Linked DNA regions of Homo sapiens. The protein of the gene in region 3 purifies or fractionates together with the protein of the main gene of each other region. This does not show direct contact. Each region holds a gene or a part of one and is shown on either strand. Other genes may lie near its edges. The genes, in order: CDK5RAP2, NUMA1 and KIF20A.

Region 1 (3,648 bases), on a different chromosome or scaffold from region 3:
AGGTGTGATGGCACACGCCTGTGGTCACAGCTACTTGGGAGGCTGAGGCAGGAGGATTGCTTGAGCCTAGGAGGTGGGGTCGAAGCTACAGTGAGCCATGATCGCGCCACTGCACTCCAGCCTGGGTGACAGAGCTAGATCCTGTCTCAAAATAAAAAAAACACAACAACAACAAAACCTCAACAAAAACAAAAATGTAGTGAGACAAACGTTCATGAACAGAGATAGAATTGTTTTGCAAAGTAATGGAGCAACAGTTATCATCAAGAGCCCTAAAAAGTTCACAACCTTTGAACTAGTAATTCCACTTCATAATGGGCGACAGCCAGGTGGATGGGCAGATGAATGGACAGACACACCAGGGTGCAGATGGAGAGAAGAATGGATGAGAGACCAGATGTACAGAGGCCGTCATGGGAACAAGACAGCAGAGCCCATGGAGCAGTTGCAGGAACACAAGGCACAAACCCCACCAAACACAGCCACCACCAATAGTTCCCCACACTGGACCTGACCTCTGAGCTCTCTGAGGCCACACTTCCTGGTCCCTCTTCTCAGGGTCCTAATGAGGACAACTGCGCCATTTGACTCCCCTCCCCCTTCCACCGACACTCCCAGGGAGCAGCTTGTGCCCCCCAGCTCTGTGGTCAGGTTACCTTTGTTCCCAGCTCTTGACTTGTGGAGCTGGGAGCCTCTTGGGTTTGAATGTCCATTTCAGCAAGGAGCCTCTGTCCCTGGCTGATCTGTTTGAGCAGGGCCTCATAGTCCTCAATCAGGCCCAGGACATGGCGGCCATTCTTGCTGGCCCACAGGTGGTGGCCAGTGACCAGGCGGGACACACACGGAGTGCTAGTTGCCGAACTGCCACTGTCGCAGGAGAGGGAGTCCGTGTCATTCCCAGAGAGTGGAGGAGTCTCTGAAACTGTAAAATGAGAAGTAGGATGTAAAATCTGTTTCAGGTAACACTCTGCGTTCAAGACGCTTATGATGTTGAAGCTAGCTAGGAGGGCTAGAAGAGGCCCTCGTGCCCAAATGCCACCCAACACAAGCCCAGAGGGGAAAAGAGGCACGCTCCTGGACCTCTGTATATTACCCCACACTGGGCTTATGAGTCATCTTGTAGGAGAGGCTCAAGTCAACTCAACCAACACTTATCAACCACCCACTCGGCAGAAGACCCCAGATTCACAAGGATGACTCAAGCTGGTGCCTGCATTCCAGTAGCCCACAGTCTGATCAGAACACAGACACTGCAGAAGGTGCAACAGCAGAGTGATGAAGGGCCAGAGCCAGAAAAAACAATTATCTGTGCAGGGAGGGAGAGAACAGGGAAGGCTTCTGAGAAGGAGCAGCATTTGAACTGGATTGAGCAAGTAGCAAGAATTACACGAATGATGAGTCATTCTGACCAAGGACAGCAGCAAAGGCATGTCACAGAGAAATGTGTATTCATGATGAGTCTTGAGGAAACGGGACTTCTACCGGCAAAGAGTGGGACAAAGGGGGTCTAAAAGTCACAGTGAGAGGAAAGTGTGGGCCTGTCTGCAGGATGGTGACCCCTGTGTGGCTACACCAGGTTAAGGGATAAGGCTGGACGGACCCACTGGAGCTGGATCCTGGAGGGCCTTGAAAGCCTCACAAAGGTGGTCACAATTTTAATCTAAGGCAAGAGGGACCCAATGATGTTCTAACCTTGGTAACACCTAGGAGTGGATTAACTGGCTTGAAGGAGAAGATCACCAGCTGGGGATGCTGAGAACTTGAAATCCCAAATCCTTACCAAATACCCTCCTGAGTTGGGACCAGGGACCCCCCTTTTCTGCAAGTTAAAAAGTCTTACTGTCACATCCAATGCTCCCACAGTTACCTGGACTTCAGCTTTGTACCTGATTTTGGTGTCACTGCCTGGGAGGAATCAAACAGATCAAATGAATTATCACTTTCCATGGGATATTTGTCACCATCTACAAAATGCAAAACACGAGAACTGTTAGTTTCACTGTTGTCAGCATTCAAGAGAGAACTGAAAGAGAATACAGTCAAGCCCCTCACATTCACTTATCCATACACACACAGCATTCCTTCAAATCTTCACTGGGCCTCTGTCCTGCCAAGCCCACCTTTGTGGGACACCAGGGAGACAGAGTGACCAGGCCCAGTCCATTCCCTAGAAAAACTCTCAGCAGAAAAGTAAATAAGCAATTTTATTTTAGTGTGATCAAGGACAAGGGAGGGAAACACAGGCTGTTGGGGCTCAGGTGAGGGGCACTACCCCCAACTTGGCTTCCCAAAGGCTAATACCCGTTTTAAAACCTTATGTTTTAAGACTGATTGTGACTGACCTATGGTAAGAAGGAGGGAAAGAAATGCCAGGCAGCACAATGGGCAGGTGAGAGGCAGACAGTGGGACAAAGAGTGGAATCATCGCTCAGGGAGAAATAAGCAGTTCATAGACCCAAGGCCCGGGTGCAGGGAAGGACAAAGTAGAATGCAAGGCCAGAACCAAGAGGACTGAGGGGCCCACTCAAGGGCTTTGGGCAAGGCAATGTCAAGCTGAGGTCTGTATTTTGTACTGAAAGAGTAAGTCTGGAGGCTGCCACACTAACCTAAGCTAGAGATGAGAGTAACCCACAATAGGATCTGGGGGGTGATGTATTTGCAACACTGTAAGGAGGCAAAACCAATAGATGCTGTACAGATGACCTGTGCAACACGTTATAATTTGGAAAGCACTTTCACATATGAAAAGCTATTGGACTCAATAGCTCAGTGGGCAAAACACACTGTAATTCAGATTTCATGGAAGGGGAGACCAAGGGGCAGAGATAGAAAGTGATCTGTCCAGCATAACCCAGCATGTCAGTGGCACAGAGCAAGGAAGCCTAGGGCTTAGGATCCCCCTTCCGAGCTCCTGCACCACTGGGCGGTGGGCTGACTGCACTCCAGCATTTCCCAGGGGTGTGCTACAGTTCCTAAGGCCAAGGAGCCAGGAGGTCAGCTCCATAGAGCTGGCCCCAAGAGGAATCACTCTCAGTGAAAGACATCAGCCTTTAGAACAGAATTTTTAAAACAGATGCACTTAAATACAGACCTGAGAAGTCTTTTGCAAAGGAAGAAATGCTGCTGCCTATAATTCTGATCTTGACTCAAGGAAATTATAAAACTTTTCTGCTGAGGCAGCACTGTGAATTCTGAATGCTCTCCTGGATGCCTCTTGCCAGGCATGATGAGGGCTGCTTTCGGCAAATTTCAAAAGCAGGTAAAGGCTGTTTGATGGCCTCCTCACTTCAGCTACCCAACTCTCCTTCCTGGGTACCCCAAGCACAGAACTGTTCTCCCTGCTTCAAACTCCCCTAGCCTACCCCACAAGTTCCTGAATCCCATCTCCTCAAAGCCTTAAAAAGGGCCAGGTGCAGACCCGTGTTGAAAATAGTAATGCCCAATGCTGAGGTCACACAAAAACCACTACCTTTGTACACTGCTGATGTACAGACTATTTAGAAGGTGGCAATATGGCACCTTTCCAAACTTATGAGGTTCCCCTTGTAGGGTTTTCTCCTAAGAATATTATTTAACAGCAAAAAGCATATTAACATTGATGTCTATTATGGCTCCAAATCAGAGACCACTTTAATAAATCAACGGGGT
Region 2 (3,648 bases), on a different chromosome or scaffold from region 3:
GATGCCTCCAATTATCCTGCCAACCCTCTACAAACCAATCACAGCCATCACACCTCTAATTCAGAACTACAAATCAACATTTAGGGTCACAGCCCAGTACCCGGGAAGCCGCCAATTATGGGATAAGGAAAGGGGCAAAATATGCAGGTCTCTGGAGAGACTGAAGCATAAGACAGGTGCTGGGACATTCTTCTCAACCCTCTCTTGGGGAGCCTTCCAGACCACCTCAGCCCTGAGGGGCCTCCATGCACACACCACCTTAACACCCACCTTAAAGGAAAGGTCTCCATTCTCCTCCGAAAGCTGGTTGATTTTGCGATCCATCTGGCTCTTCTCTGTCTTCAGGTCCTGGCACTGCTTCAGGGTTTCATGCAGCCGCATGGTAAGGCTGCGAGGGAGGGAAGCAGTGAGAAGAGAGTATGGGTTCCTGGCTGGGTGAGGGGAGGGGCTGGGGCCTGGGAAGGAATGCAGGGAGAGCTGTACCTCTCATTCTTGTCACGCAGCTCCTCAAGCTCCTTGGGCTCCAGTGGGCTGGCCGCCTGCTTCTCATTCAGCAGGGCTAGGCGGTCAATGCGCTGCTGCATCATGGCTATCTGTGCATCTGCCCAGAGTGGAGGGAGGAGGAGAGGAGAATCAGAACTATGTGCATGAGCGGAACTATGTGCACAGAACTATGTGCACAAGGGGAAGGGAGGAGACGGCATAGGGAAGAGGAGGAATATGGTATCCAATCTAAGGGAAAGAGAAGATGGGGACAAAGACAGAACCTAGCTTCCAGGAGGTCAGCCTGACCACAGGCCCAGGGCTGAGCTCTCAGCTCCAGGGGCCAGCAGAGGGGACAACATGGGAGGCCAGGGGACATCCTTCCGGCAAGTCTATTCACACATCTGCCAGTGTGCCAGCCACCTACCCTTCTCGGTGAGGAGCTTGCGGTTCTCAGCTAGCTCCAGCTCCAGCTCATCCCTATTACTTCTCTCATCAGCAAGCTGCTTCTTCAGCCGTCTCATCTGGAACTGTGGGGTCTGCAGGATATCACCCATGGGAGAAGCTGGAGAACCTGAGAGAAAGCTGAGGAGGGAGAAGGCCCATATGCATTGGTAAGCGCCTAAGATCTGAAGCAATCAGCAACAGGCAGCAGTAAGGGAGCGGGGTCTATGGAAGTGCGCACTAGCAGCTGGGAGGCCTGTGCACCTGGGTTGTTTGCAGTGCTACCTCAAGCCTCATGACATGATCTTGGGAAAACTTTTCTTCTCACTGCCTTAATTTCTTTGTCAGAAAAAAAAAAAGTGATATATTCTCCTTGGCTCTGCAGAGATGTGCTAAGAGAAGAGACTTCATTGTAGTCTCCGAGGAAGAAGGGTATTCCATAAACAGGGAACAGCTTTTGAGGGAGGCCTTCTGCACATGACAAATCCCAACCACTTCCCCCAGTTAATACTGGGTGAGGTGAGGAGATCCCAGATCTACCGGATACTCTAAGCACTCCCAGAGGCTGGTTAACATCTTAACTCTAGAAGTTAGGAATGTGAGGAATGGATGGATGCTGAGGCCCTATCCCAGGAGGAGAGGCCCAGAACATACTTGTTCCCACTGGAAGAGGAGGCAACCTTCTGTAGCTCTAGGAAGCGAATCTCCCTCTTGGCCTGGTGGCTAGGTGGGGAGAGCTCTTCAGGGAATGTGCTAGAACAGGTAGAAGGCACAGGAGCTGGGGGTAAGAAATAGACAAAATAAATCAACAAAGGTTAGTAAGAAGGTGTAAAGATTTGCACCTTTATGCAATTTGAGAACTCGCCTTAGTGGGAGTATATCCATGGATACTTATATGTAAACTACCAAGGAAGGCACTGGGCAGAACCTGAAACCTGGTGCCTGGGTTATCCAGAGTTCCGTGTCTCTAACCAAAATGAAGTGCAGGGCTTCCATTTCTACAGAGCATCATTACTCAGAGCACAGTGGAGTGACGGTGTCCTCTGGCTCAGAAACTGCACCAAGTGCTCAAGCTTTTTCCTCGAGTCCACACTGCAGAGACGGCTTGGGGAGCCCTGAGCAGGATCTCCTTGCAGCCCCCAACAACCTTTCCTATCAGAGCCATTGGCCACCATTTGGAATTCATCCCCCCTGAAGCCTTGCACCTCCAAAATGCCCTCCTCCTCAAAACCCTTCTCTTTCCGTGGTTTCCGTGACCCCTTTTGTAGGACTCTCCTACCTCTAATCACCCATTCTTAAGTCTCCTCATCTGCTCCTCCCTCCTCTACCCACCCTCTAAGCTCCCAGAGATCTGATGGGGCCTCTTGGCTCTGCCCATAGTGCCCACGGCTTCAGTGGCCATCCAATGCTGACTTGCAAACCTATCTTCTGGTCCAGAGCCTGCTCCTGAATTCTGGACTCACATTTCTAACATCTCCACCTGAAGGTCTCATGAGGAACCTGAATACAAGGAACATCAAACTCAACGGCTAGAACTCGCCTAGACCTCCTTCTTACATTCCTATCATCCACCAGCTGACCTCTTCATCAGAAGACCAGCAGAACGATCACTCTTTCTACTGTAGTACCAGCCGAGGCCATTGATATATTCCGTACTTAGATTCCTTATCATTATTTCCTGGTTTATGTATCTGCCTTTCCACCTAGAACATGCACTACATGACGGGAAAAACATTTTTTAAAAGACTGTGGGCCGGGCGCAGTGGCTCATGCCTGTATTCCTAACACTTTGGGAGGCCGAGGCAGGTGGATCACCTGATGTCAGGAGTTCGAGACCAGCCTAATCAACATGGTGAAACCCCGTCTCTACAAAAAATACAAAAATTAGCCAGGTGTGGTGGCATGCGCCTGTAATCCCAGCTACTCGGGAGGCTAAGCAGGAGAATTGCTTGAACACGGGAAGTGGAGATTGCAGTGAGCTGAGATCGCACCACTACACTCCAGCCTGGGCGACAGAGAGAGACTCTGTCTCAAAAAAAAATAAAAATAAAAATAAAAAGACTGTATTCTCAGCTTCTAAGCCTAGAGTAATGATTGTTTAAAAAATAAAAAACAAAAGTAGGTATGATCACTTGTAAATATCCTACATAACTGCTGCCAGGCAGCAAGGAGGAGCTCCATAGGAACTGAGATGATACAACATGGCCCAGAAATCGACCTACTCCATTACACACACTTTTCCTGAGCATCAACTCTGCCTTGTGTTGGGGACAGAAACAAACCCCCACCATACTTGACAACTCAGGATCCTAGTATTCCCCATTTCAGAGATGAGGGGATTCTCAGGAGTGTGTACCTACTTACCTTTCTGTAGGAAGTTCTCTAGGTCCTCATTAAGGTTTAGCCCGTCCTCATGGTCCAGCACAAATTTAAGAATGACAGCCAACTCAGCCTGGGCCACAGGGAGAAAAAGAGCATCACTTAGGTGTTAGGCCTCTGAAGGGATGGCTGCCAGGAGCTCCACCCTGGCAGTGCCAGTCCCCGGCTCCCTCATGCCCTAGGAGCCTGCTGGATCCCATTCTCCCTCTCAGAGCTGAGGTCCTATGACCCAGCCAACAACATTCAACTAGAGATATGTTCACCCCACTTGTCCCCTTCCCTCCCACCTCCCCTCAAGATGTACCGAAGTCAGAGTTCCTGACTGACTTAACTCCTGACCAC
Region 3 (3,204 bases):
TAGGGCATAGCATTCCTTAAGTGTTTGTTGATTTGGTGGAAAGATGGACTAGCAGAGAGTGCTTGAGTCCTCAGTGTTTAGGGAACAGCCAGCAGCATTGCAGGAAGAAGCTGCTTGAGTGGTCTCCAGAGCCAACCACTCAGGAAGGAATATATCTGCTGGCTCTGCACAGGAGGCAAGTGGGAGATGAAGGAGAGGCCTCTAAAAAACTGGGTCTCTCTCTAGATCTTTGGGCCAGAAGTGGGACAGGCATCCTTCTTCAACCTAACTGTGAAGGAGATGGTAAAGGATGTACTCAAAGGGCAGAACTGGCTCATCTATACATATGGAGTCACTAACTCAGGGAAAACCCACACGATTCAAGGTGAGTAGTAAGCCTTCACGGGATTCCTGATTGGCTGGTAATGGTGTTGTTTTTACCTTTTGAGACTCTGAGTTAGGGGGAGAAGGGCACTTGCCTCAGCTGTCCATCTTTCATATGCCTCCAGGTACCATCAAGGATGGAGGGATTCTCCCCCGGTCCCTGGCGCTGATCTTCAATAGCCTCCAAGGCCAACTTCATCCAACACCTGATCTGAAGCCCTTGCTCTCCAATGAGGTAATCTGGCTAGACAGCAAGCAGATCCGACAGGAGGAAATGAAGAAGCTGTCCCTGCTAAATGGAGGCCTCCAAGAGGTAAAGCATTGGTATCCATGGCAGTGGGGGTAGGGGGTACAAATCTCGGGGAAGTTTTGTGCTTACCTTCTCCCTGTGCCCCTCCAGGAGGAGCTGTCCACTTCCTTGAAGAGGAGTGTCTACATCGAAAGTCGGATAGGTACCAGCACCAGCTTCGACAGTGGCATTGCTGGGCTCTCTTCTATCAGTCAGTGTACCAGCAGTAGCCAGCTGGATGGTATGTACCGTGACTGGGCTCTGCCAAAAAATAGTAGGAACTCACTCCCTGTTCCTAATAGCTGCCAGGAGTACAGACCAGAGGTTGCAATCTAAGGTCTGCCTTCCAAGGCCCCTGCAGGCCAAAAGAGAGGTGAACTGCTCTAGGTTGATGCCCTATACATTGGCTTCTTCTCCAGAAACAAGTCATCGATGGGCACAGCCAGACACTGCCCCACTACCTGTCCCGGCAAACATTCGCTTCTCCATCTGGATCTCATTCTTTGAGATCTACAACGAACTGCTTTATGACCTATTAGAACCGCCTAGCCAACAGCGCAAGAGGCAGACTTTGCGGCTATGCGAGGATCAAAATGGCAATCCCTATGTGAAAGGTAAAGGAACATGGGGAAAGCTGGCATGAACCCTGGAGGGCAACTGGGGAGAGACTGGCAAAAGAGTTGGATGTTCCCATCTTACACCCCTCTCCTTTGGCCCCAGATCTCAACTGGATTCATGTGCAAGATGCTGAGGAGGCCTGGAAGCTCCTAAAAGTGGGTCGTAAGAACCAGAGCTTTGCCAGCACCCACCTCAACCAGAACTCCAGCCGCAGGTGAGTAGATTGTAAGAATAAACTCTTCACTGTGTTCCAGGAAACATTAGTCCTCTGCCTGGTCATGGAAAATGTGCAATGACTTTTTGTTTTTCTTAACTTCCAGTCACAGCATCTTCTCAATCAGGATCCTACACCTTCAGGGGGAAGGAGATATAGTCCCCAAGATCAGCGAGTAAGTTTATCCATTTAGAAATTTGGGCTTCTTGGCCATAAATGATAGTTGGGAAAGCATGGAGGAGGTCCTCAGGGGAACTATGTGTTCTCCTTCTTTGGGTACAGAGATTCTTAGTGGGCCGTCCCCTCTCCAGAATTATACAAAGGGCCAGAAGGCTCATAACATGTGAGGCCCTTATGTCAGATCCTGTGCATCATTCTAGGCTGTCACTCTGTGATCTGGCTGGCTCAGAGCGCTGCAAAGATCAGAAGAGTGGTGAACGGTTGAAGGAAGCAGGAAACATTAACACCTCTCTACACACCCTGGGCCGCTGTATTGCTGCCCTTCGTCAAAACCAGCAGAACCGGTGAGCTTTTGACTATAATTCCTGGGCTCTGCAATTTGCTAAGAGACTTCCTGGACACCACTGGGGATGGTGCTAGGATACCCAAAGGGCTGGTGTTCTGCTCACAGCTCTATTATCTCTGATTCTCTGCCAGGTCAAAGCAGAACCTGGTTCCCTTCCGTGACAGCAAGTTGACTCGAGTGTTCCAAGGTTTCTTCACAGGCCGAGGCCGTTCCTGCATGATTGTCAATGTGAATCCCTGTGCATCTACCTATGATGAAACTCTTCATGTGGCCAAGTTCTCAGCCATTGCTAGCCAGGTGAGAAGCTAGAGGTGTGATGGGTGTGCGCACTTGGAACTGGTAACTCTAAGAAAGCTCCTAGGGACTACTTATGGAGTCAAGTAAGATATTTTTTTTCCCTCTAGCTTGTGCATGCCCCACCTATGCAACTGGGATTCCCATCCCTGCACTCGTTCATCAAGGAACATAGTCTTCAGGTATCCCCCAGCTTAGAGAAAGGGGCTAAGGCAGACACAGGCCTTGATGATGATATTGAAAATGAAGCTGACATCTCCATGTATGGCAAAGAGGTGAGAATACAAGAAAGCTTTAGTGTAGCAGCTTAGTAGCTACACATTTTTCCATGGTGCCTTCCAGGTGGGCTTGTGCCTTCTGAGGGCATGAGCATCTGATGACCTCTGACATGTGTGTCTCTCCTAGGAGCTCCTACAAGTTGTGGAAGCCATGAAGACACTGCTTTTGAAGGAACGACAGGAAAAGCTACAGCTGGAGATGCATCTCCGAGATGAAATTTGCAATGAGATGGTAGAACAGATGCAACAGCGGGAACAGTGGTGCAGGTACTAGCTGAGTGACCCCTCTTGCTCTGTCACCTGAGACAGAGGGTGGGAAGTAAGGAGTTAGGTGGAGTTGTGCCTCAAGATCTGTTCCCCAAGTTCACTCCTCAGAACCTTCACTTACCTCTCTTTTCTCCTCTGTTTCTGACAGTGAACATTTGGACACCCAAAAGGAACTATTGGAGGAAATGTATGAAGAAAAACTAAATATCCTCAAGGAGTCACTGACAAGTTTTTACCAAGAAGAGATTCAGGTGAGTTGCCCTGAGCCAGCTCCAATTAGCTGCTCAGATTTCCATCACTAGCTTGCCTGAAGTAAAGAGATTTTATAAACTACTCCAGTAAGGGCAGGAATATA

What was found.
Region 1: the proteins of KIF20A (region 3) and CDK5RAP2 purify together in Homo sapiens (affinity purification with mass spectrometry; 2 studies listed by BioGRID and IntAct, with this or other methods). This does not show direct contact.
Region 2: the proteins of KIF20A (region 3) and NUMA1 purify together in Homo sapiens (affinity purification with mass spectrometry; 2 studies listed by BioGRID and IntAct, with this or other methods). This does not show direct contact.

Annotation. Positions count from the first base shown.
Region 1 is NC_000009.12:120,402,150-120,405,797, forward strand, and holds part of CDK5RAP2 (CDK5 regulatory subunit-associated protein 2), read right to left. Parts: intron 1,965-3,648; coding exon 1,887-1,964; intron 923-1,886; coding exon 657-922; intron 1-656. UniProt on the Homo sapiens protein: Potential regulator of CDK5 activity via its interaction with CDK5R1. Negative regulator of centriole disengagement (licensing) which maintains centriole engagement and cohesion. Involved in regulation of mitotic spindle orientation.
Region 2 is NC_000011.10:72,017,913-72,021,560, forward strand, and holds part of NUMA1 (nuclear mitotic apparatus protein 1), read right to left. Parts: intron 3,380-3,648; coding exon 3,292-3,379; intron 3,008-3,291; exon of another isoform or gene 2,414-3,007; intron 1,706-2,413; coding exon 1,582-1,705; intron 1,098-1,581; exon of another isoform or gene 1,069-1,097; coding exon 911-1,068; intron 602-910; coding exon 484-601; intron 389-483; coding exon 271-388; exon of another isoform or gene 1-270. UniProt on the Homo sapiens protein: Microtubule (MT)-binding protein that plays a role in the formation and maintenance of the spindle poles and the alignement and the segregation of chromosomes during mitotic cell division.
Region 3 is NC_000005.10:138,182,098-138,185,301, forward strand, and holds part of KIF20A (kinesin-like protein KIF20A), read left to right. Parts: intron 1-225; coding exon 226-364; intron 365-488; coding exon 489-676; intron 677-763; coding exon 764-893; intron 894-1,071; coding exon 1,072-1,266; intron 1,267-1,372; coding exon 1,373-1,484; intron 1,485-1,590; coding exon 1,591-1,659; intron 1,660-1,864; coding exon 1,865-2,008; intron 2,009-2,141; coding exon 2,142-2,307; intron 2,308-2,414; coding exon 2,415-2,579; intron 2,580-2,709; coding exon 2,710-2,849; intron 2,850-2,997; coding exon 2,998-3,100; intron 3,101-3,204. UniProt on the Homo sapiens protein: Mitotic kinesin required for chromosome passenger complex (CPC)-mediated cytokinesis. Following phosphorylation by PLK1, involved in recruitment of PLK1 to the central spindle. Interacts with guanosine triphosphate (GTP)-bound forms of RAB6A and RAB6B.